3 linked regions of the Homo sapiens genome follow. The protein of the gene in region 2 interacts with the protein of the main gene of each other region in a pairwise test. Each region holds a gene or a part of one and is shown on either strand. Other genes may lie near its edges.

Evidence for each region.
Region 1: the proteins of PEF1 (region 2) and EIF4G1 interact in binary tests that used the Homo sapiens proteins (3 or more experiments, as listed by UniProt).
Region 3: the proteins of PEF1 (region 2) and TFG interact in binary tests that used the Homo sapiens proteins (3 or more experiments, as listed by UniProt).

The regions. Positions count from the first base shown.
Region 1 is NC_000003.12:184,327,955-184,331,605, reverse strand, and holds part of EIF4G1 (eukaryotic translation initiation factor 4 gamma 1), read right to left. Parts: coding exon 3,604-3,651; intron 2,976-3,603; coding exon 2,850-2,975; intron 2,698-2,849; coding exon 2,616-2,697; intron 341-2,615; coding exon 242-340; intron 135-241; coding exon 1-134.
Region 2 is NC_000001.11:31,638,373-31,642,023, forward strand, and holds part of PEF1 (peflin), read right to left. Parts: exon of another isoform or gene 3,237-3,651; coding exon of another isoform or gene 3,228-3,236; intron 1-3,227. UniProt on the Homo sapiens protein: Calcium-binding protein that acts as an adapter that bridges unrelated proteins or stabilizes weak protein-protein complexes in response to calcium.
Region 3 is NC_000003.12:100,715,978-100,719,628, reverse strand, and holds part of TFG (protein TFG), read right to left. Parts: intron 1-3,651. UniProt on the Homo sapiens protein: Plays a role in the normal dynamic function of the endoplasmic reticulum (ER) and its associated microtubules. Required for secretory cargo traffic from the endoplasmic reticulum to the Golgi apparatus.

The sequences.
Region 1 (3,651 bases), on a different chromosome or scaffold from region 2:
TCTATCCAGTCGAACACCCGCTGGTTACTGCTGCCCTCCTTCAGCAGCTTCTCCAGCTGCCTGTTCAGCTCCTCGGAGGGGAGTGCCCTCTGGCCAGGGGCTTCCGACTCCTCTCCCAGGGTATACTCCACCTTCTGCAATGGAAAAGGCCCGCAGTTAAGAGGTAAGGTTGCCAACAGGAGACAAGAAAGAAGACTGGCCAGCCTCAAATGCTAGAATTAACCCAACTCCATCCCCAAACCTGTTCAGCGACGAATGCACCAATGTCCTGGCCTTCAGGTAGAAATTCCTTCCAGCTAAGCCCGGCTTCTCGCCACAGCGTCCCCACCTTTTTAGGACCCTGGAAAACACAAGACCAACCCAGCTTACCAAAGCTCTCTCTCTCCAAGGACCCAACAGCTCTACCACATTAATCCAACAAATATTTACTGAAAGCCTACTAGGTACTTGCTAGGCATTAAGGATGCTATAGAAATACTAATAGGCAAAGCCCTTCCATTCCTACGGTCTGGTGCAGGGCACAGATGTCAGTCAAATAACCACCCAAATAAATAAGAACTCGTCCCAGGAGCGGGCGGTGGCTCACGCCTGTAATCCTAGCACTCTGAAAGGTCGAGGTGGGCGGATCACCTGAGGTCAGGAGTCGGAGACCAGCCTGACCAACATGGTGAAACCCCGTCTCTACAGAAAATACAAAAATTAGCCAGGCGTGGTGGTGGGTGCCTGTAATCCCAGCTACTCGGGAGGCTGAGGCAGGAGAATCGCTTGAACCCAAGGCGAGGGTTGCAATGAGCTGAGATCACGCCACTGCACTCCAGCCTGGGCGACACAGCGAGACTCTGTCTCAAAAAAATAATAATAATAAAATAAAATAAAAGAGAACTTGTCCACCAAAGTGCTATGACACTAGGGTAGGAAAAATGATGTAAGGGCCTCTAGGAAGGGACAACTTCTAACAAGTATGCTTGTTTCCTAAACCCAGAAAATCTTAAGACACAAATATACCCCATCCCTAACACAAATAAAAAATCCTCATAAAACCAGCAGTCTGAGTGCATTTTCTGTAAGGGGCAATAGACTATGAAGACATCACTCTTTTCTTTATAACAGACTAATGGCACTGGCTCTTAGCAAGATTATTGCAGTTCACAGATTTTAAAACATGCCCATTTTTTCACATTTTAACTAAAAGTTGTCTTACAGCCGATATATATCTTTTTTTATTTTGAGACAGAGTCTTGCTCTGTCGCCCAGGCTGGAGTGCAGTGGCACAATCTTGGCTTACTGCAACCTCCCCCTCCTGGGTTCAAGCAATTCTCCTGCCTCAGCCTCCCAAGTAGCTGGGACTACAGGTGCGCACCACCATGTCCAGCTAATTTTTTTGTATTTTTAGTAGATACAGGGTTTCATCATGTTGGCCAGGCTGGTTTCCAACTCCTGACCTCACGTGATCCACCCACCTCTGCCTCCCAAAGTGCTGGGATTACCACGCCCGGCCCAGTCTTTTCTTTCTTAACAGCGCATAAAGAATGTCTTATAATCTATGGCACCTTGGAGTTGATGAAATACACAAATAGTTCAATATGCTTATTTGTTGTTAAAAAACAACTTGTCCTGGTACACGTCTATTTAAAAGAATTAAATGATGTTGACATAACAATTCCTTTAAATCCCAAGTGTGATTCCTCCAGGTTCCAGATGGCTGAACCCTTGAAACTGCACACACTCACCCCAACTTCTCACTTCCACTAAGTACCACATTCAACTTACCTTTCCCCATCTCTTTACCTTTATATTCGCTAGTTACCAATTAACTTTCACAAAGCCGCTTCAGCACCCTGAAAGCCTCCTGTCACAAATATTGTCAAATATTCCTTTGCAACCCCACAGTACTTAAGATACTCCACTCTATTTCAACTGTTTTATGTCACGCTTTACTGTTGTTTTTATCAAGCTGTCATTTCTTTTTTCTTTTTTGGAGACAGAGTCTTGCTCTGTTTCCCAGGCTGGAGTGCAGTGGCACAATCTCGGCTCACTGCTACCTCCGCCTCCCGGGTCAAGTGATTCTCCTGCCTCAGCCTCCTGAGTAGGTGGAATTACAGGCACCTGCCACAACACGGCTAATTTTTGTGTTTTTAGTAGAGATGGGGTTTCACCATATTGGCCAAGCTGGTCTTGAACTCCTGACCTCGTGATCCACCCACGTCGGCCTCTCAAAGTGCTGGGATTACAGGCGTGAGCCACTGCGCCCGGCCCATTTCTTCCTTTTTCTCTACCAACTTGTTTCTTGTGTTTTATTCATTGCTGTGTCCCTAGTGCTTAGTATATGATAAATGATCATCAACAAAACCCTAGTTCAATGAATGAATAAATAAATGCATCAATCACAGGCCTAGGGTCTTAGACTGCCATTCTCCTCCAGTCTTGGCCAGAACTCATGATAGGAACTGGTGTGCGGGAGATGGCCCACCTCAGTATTTCCTCTCCCAGGTACCAACACAATCCTGTCATCACCATCACTCCACTCCACCAATGGACCATGAAGCTTCAGGGCCACAGCAAACAGCCAAAACCACACCGTGGGAGGCATCTCTGGACTCCTGGCCCTCACTCACCATGCTTTTGCACAGGAGGCCCAGGATCTCCAGCAACAGGGAAGCAGCTTTGCCCAACGGTCTCAGAGGCTTTGTAATCTCCCTACAAGAAGAGAAAAACCTAATGCTGACAGCCTCCACAGTTCTCTCACCACTACTCCATCTCCCTCCAAACCAGGGTATCCAACCCAGCCATTTCCCTACCACCTTTCCTCTGGTCTTTACCTCCCCTGAATTCCACCCAGGGGGACTTACCTGAACAGCTCCCCCATGGGCACCCCACCTTCCTGCAGAATGGGTGTTACCAGTTCCGCTAGGTAGAGCCACACGTGGGGGATGTCAATTTCCATGTCCTCAGCCAATTCCAAGATTTCATACAACCTGCCAAGGGAATTCAAAGTCAAGACATTCTAGGCCAGGTCCCCACTCTCCTTCTGGGGCAACGTGGCATGGCTAGGGCATCAACTATGGAACCCCCAGGAACATTTTCTAGACATGGGGACAATTATTTCAAGCTAAGGCCACCTCTGTGTCCTTAGATGGTTTTCACCCCGCTTAACCCCCTAAAGTTATGCTGACCAGGATGGTCAAGGAACCCATACTGTTTTTTGGTTTTTTTTTTGAGACAGTTTTGCTTTTGTCACCCAGGCTGGAGTGCAATGGCACGATCTCGGCTCACTGCAACCTCCACCTCCCGGGTTCAAGCAGTTCTCCTGCCTCAGCCTCCGAGTAGCTGGGATTACTGTGCCACCACGCCTGGCTAATTTTTGTATTATTAGTAGAGACAGGGTTTCACCATGTTGGCCAGGCTGGTCTAGAACTCCCAACCTCACGTGATCCTCTAAGGAATCCAACCCACCTTGGCCTCCCAAAGTGCAGGGATTACAGGCATAAGCCACCACACCCGGCCAGGGAACCTACACTCTTATGCAAGGTTCCAAGGGTCCCAAAAAGGAGATAGAAAATTGTGGGTCTGTATAAGTGGGAGGCCCAGAGAAGCTGGTCATACCCTTGGTAGTACTGAGCAGTAGACAGATGCCCAGCACAGAGCAGCTGG
Region 2 (3,651 bases):
CAACACTCCTTCATTAAGCAATAGGGCTCAGGATTCCAGCATAGGATGGAAAGGGAGTGGGAACTCTGCAGAATCTGGGCACACCCAAAGAACAGGCCAGACACGAAGCCAGAAGTAGCTGCCCCACTATAAGCCCTGTGAGCAAAGCTATAAACCGCACCTGGCACCTAGGAAAACCCACCTAGGAAACCACCTATAAACCACCTAGGAAACATCCCCAGGCCAACAAAGCAGGTGCTGCCAGGCAGGTCTCCTGCCCTTCTGGCTATTGTAGTCTGGCAGCAATTAAACCCTTTCCTTTCTGTCCTGCATTTGAAGACCTCCTCTGTAGTTTACAAAGTACTTTCACAAACACAAACACTACAGGCAGAATCTTGCCAATGGCCTCCTAACAGAAAAAAGGAAGATGTTAGTTGCCCTCTTTTACAGATGAAGAAACTAAGCCACGGAGCTGTTAAAGGACTTCATTCAGCACGCATTTTCAGAGTGACAATATTGTACTAGGCTCTGTAGTAGATCTGAGGACACAAGTAAATGAAGTCCTGCCCTTAAGGGGCCCACAGATAATTGTGATACAATCTGATCAGTGCCATCAGAAAAATCTACTTATGTGCTATCAAGGAAGCTTAGATGGAGGAATTTGTGCTGTTTGCAGAATGAATAAATGAACAATGTATGAAGTGGGTCAAGGAAAGCTTCCTGGAGGAAGTGGCAGTGATATTGGAAATGGTCCTTGAAGGATGCATAGACATTTTCCAAAAGGCAGGCAGGGAAGGACACTCCAGACAGAAGAGAGAAGAAAGACAAACGCACAGACTTAAGAGTGAGCATAGTGCATTCAGGGAATGAGTTAAACCGCAGAGCCAAGAATGCAGTGTGAACCCAGAAAGGCAGGCCCTCTATACACTCGTTGACCAAGCACCTCTCCCCCTGCATTTCAGTTAGCCGTGAGGTATCAGTGTCTAAGAGTAGTTTCTGTCTAGCATCTCCCCCACCCAACAGTAAGCTCCCCAGGGGCAGACACTGCGCCTCACTCATCATGGCACCCCAGGGCCCAGCACAGTGCCTGGCACCTGCAAGCCTCCACAAATATTTGGACAAATGAACACCACTCTAAAGAGTTTTGTTGGGGCTTTATGCCGGAGAAAACAGAGCACTATAGAAGGGTTTCCAATAGGAGAGGAACGTGATGAGAACCTTGTTTAGAGAAGTAACCAGCGGCGGTGTGGAGGATGAGCCAGTGAGGGAGGCAGTAGCCCAGGTGCTGGGCAGGCAGGGCATGAACCAGACAGCACACTTGGGGATGAAGAGAACGGAATGGATTCTGAAGCTATTTCAGAGATAGACCAGACATGACTTGGTGACTAATTAGATTAGGAAAGAGATGGAGGAGGAGTGAGGAAAGTGTTCAGAATGACTCGGGTTTCTAGCTTTTGCACAAGATGAAGGAGGTGGAGCCAACTGAGACAGAATGCAGGCTGCACAGGAAGTTTGGGGAAGAAGATGAGGTGGTCCCCACCTCACAGAGGGTCACCCAGTGTCACTGAGTTGTTAGCAAAGGTCTGAACCAGAAATGAAAAACAGCATCCCTGACTCCACGTTCTTTTACACTACTCCATGCTCCCAGCCCTTTTTAGAGTTTTTCCAAGAGTTATTTCATACTGATAAACAGGATTGTGAAGGCAGGTGGAGGGGAAGGACAGGAAGAGTTCAGTAACTGCAGCTTCTGAAGCAACACAGAAAAACTATCTCTAGGGCTCTGGCTGATTGCAAATAAGCTACATCTGATGCCCTGGGGGGACTGGGGGCAACAAACATTTACTGAGGCTCTGCTAGGTGCTTCCAGTTCAACCAGCTCTCACTAATCCTCAGTCCTGTGAGGTAAACAGTGTCATCTCCATTTTGCAGATGAGAAAATTAAGGGGCAGAGAGTTTAATAACATGCCTGAGATCATGCAGCTAGAATGGGCAAGTTGGGATTCAAGTCAGGGTCTGCATGACTCTACACTACCCCCTTCTGTTTGTTCACTCAATAAATGAGTGAGTGCCTAGCATGTGTCTGTGTGAGGGACTGTGCTAAATGTCTTTGTCAAATATAATGAATTTCTACTGTGGACAGAGGTAGAGGGGAAGGCTGGATTGGGTGATCTCTCAGAGCCTTCAAGCCCAGAAATCAGGGACTCTTAGAAAAATCTCATTCTTTTTCGTCCCAGCACCTAGAGTCACTTTGAGAGCCAAGCCACATTTTGGAAGACACCCCAAAGACTCTTCAGTTCAACCTCTCAGTTAATAATGGAATCTCTGCAGAACCACCTGGAATCTCTACCTGCACTTGCGCAAGCAGTAGGGAGCTTACCTCCTCCCAAATAACCACCTCAGAAAGTCCGGTATTTTTTTTTTCTTTCCAGTTCTGAGGACTCAAGTCTTCTAACCTCAAGACCCCTGTGAAGCTTAAAGGTATCAACGGCTGTTCCAAGCTGAGCCCTGATGACGAATGGAGGAGGGAGCATTGCAAAGACAAGTTTGTACCCCAGAGCTACCCTTCAAGTGCACAGGAGGAGGTGGGAAGCCCAAACTAAGGGGTTAAACAATCACAGGAAGACAAGAGGAACAGTTCAAGCATTCACCAGCAGAGCCACTTGAAATAGGAGAGAAGCACGCAACCAATAAACAATGAGCCAAGAACCATCCCCAGACTTCAATTACCTCTGTGCTCACACTTTCAAATCTTTCCAGCTTCATCACTCCTGAGCTACAGACCCACATATCCAGCAGCCTACTGGACCTTCCCTCCAAACCCATGCCTCCCTGTGTTCTCATCTCAGTGAATGGAGCTCCGTTCTGCTTAATCATCCAAACCTAAGGCCAAGTTTTCTCAAATCTACCTCCCAAGTGCTTCTCAAATCTCCTCTACCAGGTCACAGTTCTCTTTAGCCTAGATTACCTCAATAGCGTCAAAACCGGTATCCCTGCCTCCTGTCTCTCCTGCTTCAATCCATTCTCACAGCACCCCACAGTAAGCACTCCAAAGCACAAATGGGACAAAACACTTCACTGGCTCCCTCACTACTCTTAGGATGAAGTCACACTCCCCAAAAAGGCATACAAGGCCCTTTGGGATCTGGCCCTTGCTTACCTTTCTAGTCTTATTTCCTACCCCTTTCCCCCACATCACTACAACTACACTGAACTTCTTAAAGTTCCTCCAAAATACTAGGCTGTCTTACCTGCTTCATGGGCTTTGTGCAGCTATTTCCTCTGCTGGAATAGCATTCCTTTCTTCACTCAGCTAATTTCTACCAGTGATTCAGTTGTTGGCTTAAATATCACCTCTTTTAAAAATGCACCCCTAGACTGAGTTAGGTATCTCACTCTCCCGTGCTGTACCTTACACTTACTCCCATTGAATACTTATCACATTGCCTCTTCAATCTGCATAACTGCATTACTCCTCCACTTGGAGTATTCTACATGCCCAACACCATACCTAGCACTTTACGTGGATTTTCTCATTTAATCTTTAGAGTAATTCTGAGGTAGATACTATTATGACCCCATTCTAAAGAAGGGAAAACTAGTCCAGGCGTGGTGGCTCACGCCTGTAATCCCAACACTGTGGGAGGCTGAGGCAGGTGGATCACCTGAGGTTAG
Region 3 (3,651 bases), on a different chromosome or scaffold from region 2:
CCAAAAAATTTACATCTTTTACCAAGAAATAAAAAAGTTTCCCAAAGTTCAAATCTTAATCATAGGTAGAGTAAAACACTACTGTTGCAAAACTGCTTTAATGAATGGATAGACAGTAAATTCTTTCAGGTCACTGACCATTTTGATATTAAGATGAAAACAATCAACTCTCCCCAGAAAAATATTTATATATTCAAAACAGTGTGTATTTATGACCGTGAAATCCCCCAGATCTCAGGGATAAAGAATGCTATAATTGGCATACCAACTGTGTGTCTCAAAAGCTTTCAAAGGGCTAAGGGAAAAATACATTCTCTAAAGAAAGCAAGAACAGAAAAGCAGCCAGAGACAAGGAGTTCATCAGGGACCTCTGCAGGGTGTCTTCACAAACAGTTGGGTGGGGAGGAGTTCTGTCCTGGGGAGGCCACAAGACTACTTCTGGGATGCTCTGCTGCACCTACTTTAACACTAATTAGTTGGATTTATTTTGGGCAAAGATGACAAAACTGAGAATTTTATAACTGTTTTTAGCTCCTTATAGCCAGACCCACTTCCCATAACATACTTGTTTAATGTTCAATTTTCATAAACACATTTTTTAAAGAAAATAAAGTATGTATGTAAAAGAAGAAAACTTCCTGTTCTTTTTTTCTTTTCTGAATCCTACAACAGAAACAGAGTATCTCTGATGGCAGGAACTTTACCTAAGCCATCCCTCCACTCTACTAACAGAATCTAACGGACACAAATCAAAACAATCAAAAACTTTTTGGCCAAGTGCGGTGGCTCACACCTGTAATCCCAGCAGTTTGGGAGGCTGAGGTGGGCGGATCACCTGAGGTCAGGAGTTCGAGACCAGCCTGGCCAACATGGAGAAACTCCGTCTCTACTAAAAATACAAAAATCAGCCGAGTGTGGTGGTGTGTGCCTATAATTCCAGCTACTTGGGAGGCCGAGGCAGGAGAATCACTTGAACCTGGGATGTGGAGGCTGCAGTGAGCCAAGATCACCCCACTGTACTCCAGCCTAAACGACAAAGCAAGACTTTGTCTCAAAAAAAAAAAAAAAAAAAAAAAAAACCATGAAATACAAAGTTGTAACTAAATGTGGAAGACAAACTACAACGAGGACACCTCAAGCTAAGGGTCCATGAACTGTGACCAACGGACAAAATCCCTGTGTTGTTATAGGTCTGTGAATGAAAAATGGTTTTTACATTGTAAAAAAAAGATGAGACAGAGGCCTTATGTGACCCACAAAGCTACAATATTTATTCTCTCTGATCTATTAAAGAAAATGTTTGCTGACCTTTGCCCTAAACAGTAGTTAAGAGAAAGCCAGTCAATGAGGTCAGTTTGAGATAAAGGCAAAGCATCTTCAAGTGGGAAAAAAGGCAGTTAAAGGCCAGGCACACTGGCTCATGCCTGTAATCTCAGTACTTTGGCAGGCCAAGGCAGGAGGATCGCTTGAGCCCAGGAGTTCAGGACCAGCCTGGGCAACACAGTGAGACCCCCATTTTGATAAACATTAAGAATAAGAAGCTGAGTGCAGTGGCACATGCCTGCAGTCCCAGCTACACGGGAGGCTGAGTTGCAAGGACTGCTTGAGCCCAGGAGTTCAAGGCTTCAATGAGCCATGATCACACCACTGCGCTCCAGCTTGGGAGACAGAGCAAGACCCTGTCTCAAGACAAAAAAATAAAAAATAAAAAAAAGACAGTTAAGCAAGTACTAGCCAGAGCAATTATGCAAGAGAAAAAAATAAAAGGTATCCAAATTGGGAAGGAAGCAAACTGTCCCTGTTTGCAGATGACATAATCTTATATAAACAAAAACCTAAAAACTCTACCAAAACCCTTAGAACCAATAAATGAATTCAATAAAGCTGCCAGAAACAAAATAAGTACACAAAAATAAGTAGTGTTTCTATACACATACAATAAAAAATAAAAAATGCAATCCCATTAACCACAGCTACAAAAATTTTTTTAAATATCTAGGAAGCAGTTTAACCAAGAAGATGAAAAACCTCTACAAAAAAAAAAAAAAACACTGATGAAAGAAACCAAAGAGCATACATATGTAATGACATCCCATGCTTATATAAGAACAAATATTGTTAAAATGACAAAATTACTCAAAGCAATTTACAGATTCAATTCAATCCCTATCAAACTACCAATAAAATTATTCATAAAAATTTAAAAACAAACCATAAAATTTGTACAGAACTACATACAACCCCAGACAGTCAAAGCAATACTGAGCAAAGAACAAAGCTGAAGGTGTCACACTTACTGACCTCAAAATATACTACAAAGCTGTAATAAGCATGGACTGGCACAAAAACGGACCCACAGACCAACAGAACTGACATAAAAACAGACCCATTGACCAAGAGAACAAACACATAGATCAATAGAACACATAGAACAAAAGAACATAATCCATGTTATCTATAGCCAACTGACTTTTGACAAGACCACTCATTAGGAAAAGGATAACCTCTTTAATAGGTCGGGAAAAGATTTCATGAATAAGACCTCAAAAGTGCAGTCAATAAAAGCAAAAATAAATATGATTATCTCAAACTGGAAAACTTTTCTGCACAGCAAAGGAAACAATCAAGAGTGAAAAGAGAACTTACAGAATGGGAGGAAATACAACTACTCATCTGGCAGAGGATGAATATTCAGAATATAGAAGGAACTCAAACATCTCAACAGCTAAAAAACAATCAATCCGATTTTAAAATCGGCAAATGATCTGAACAGACATTTCTCAAAAAAAGACATAGAAATGGTCAATAAATATATGAAAAAATGCTCAAAATCACAAATCATCAGGGAAATGCACACATATCAGGAAAATGAAGACCACAACAAGGTTCACCCCAGTTAGGATGGTTATTATCAAAAAGATAAATAACAAATGCTGGCAAGAATGAAGAGAAAAGGGAACTCTTACACATTATTGGTAGGAATGTCAACAGTACAGCCACTAGGGAGAACAGTATGAAGGTTCCTCAAAAAACTATAAATCGAACTAACACACAATTCAGCGATGCCACTACTGAATATTTAACTAAAGGAAAGGAAACCAGTATATTGAAGAGAAATCTGCACTCACATTTTACTGCAGCACTATTCACAATAGTCAAGATATGGAATCAACCTAAGTGTCTAACAACAGATTAACTGATAAAGAAAATATGGTATATATACACAATGGAATACAATTCAGCCATAAAAAAGAATGAAGTCCTGTCATTCACAGCAACATGGATGGAACTGGAAGACATTAAGTTAAAAAGATACCACATGCTCTCTCTCATATGTGGAAGCTAAAAAAAGTTGATCTTATACAAGTAAAAAGCAGAACAGATGACAGTAGAGGCTGCAAAGGGTAGGGGAAAAGAGGGATAGGGAGAGATTTATTAAAAGACACAAAAGTACAACTAGATAGAAGTAGTTCCAGTGTTCTATAGCACTATAGGATGACTACAGTTAACAATAACATATTATATAATTTCAAATAGCTAGAAGGAGAATATTGAATGTTTCTAACCCAAAGAAATAAATATTTGAGGTGATGGATATGCGAATTACCCTGATCTAATCCCATTATATGTAATGAAACATTACTATGTACC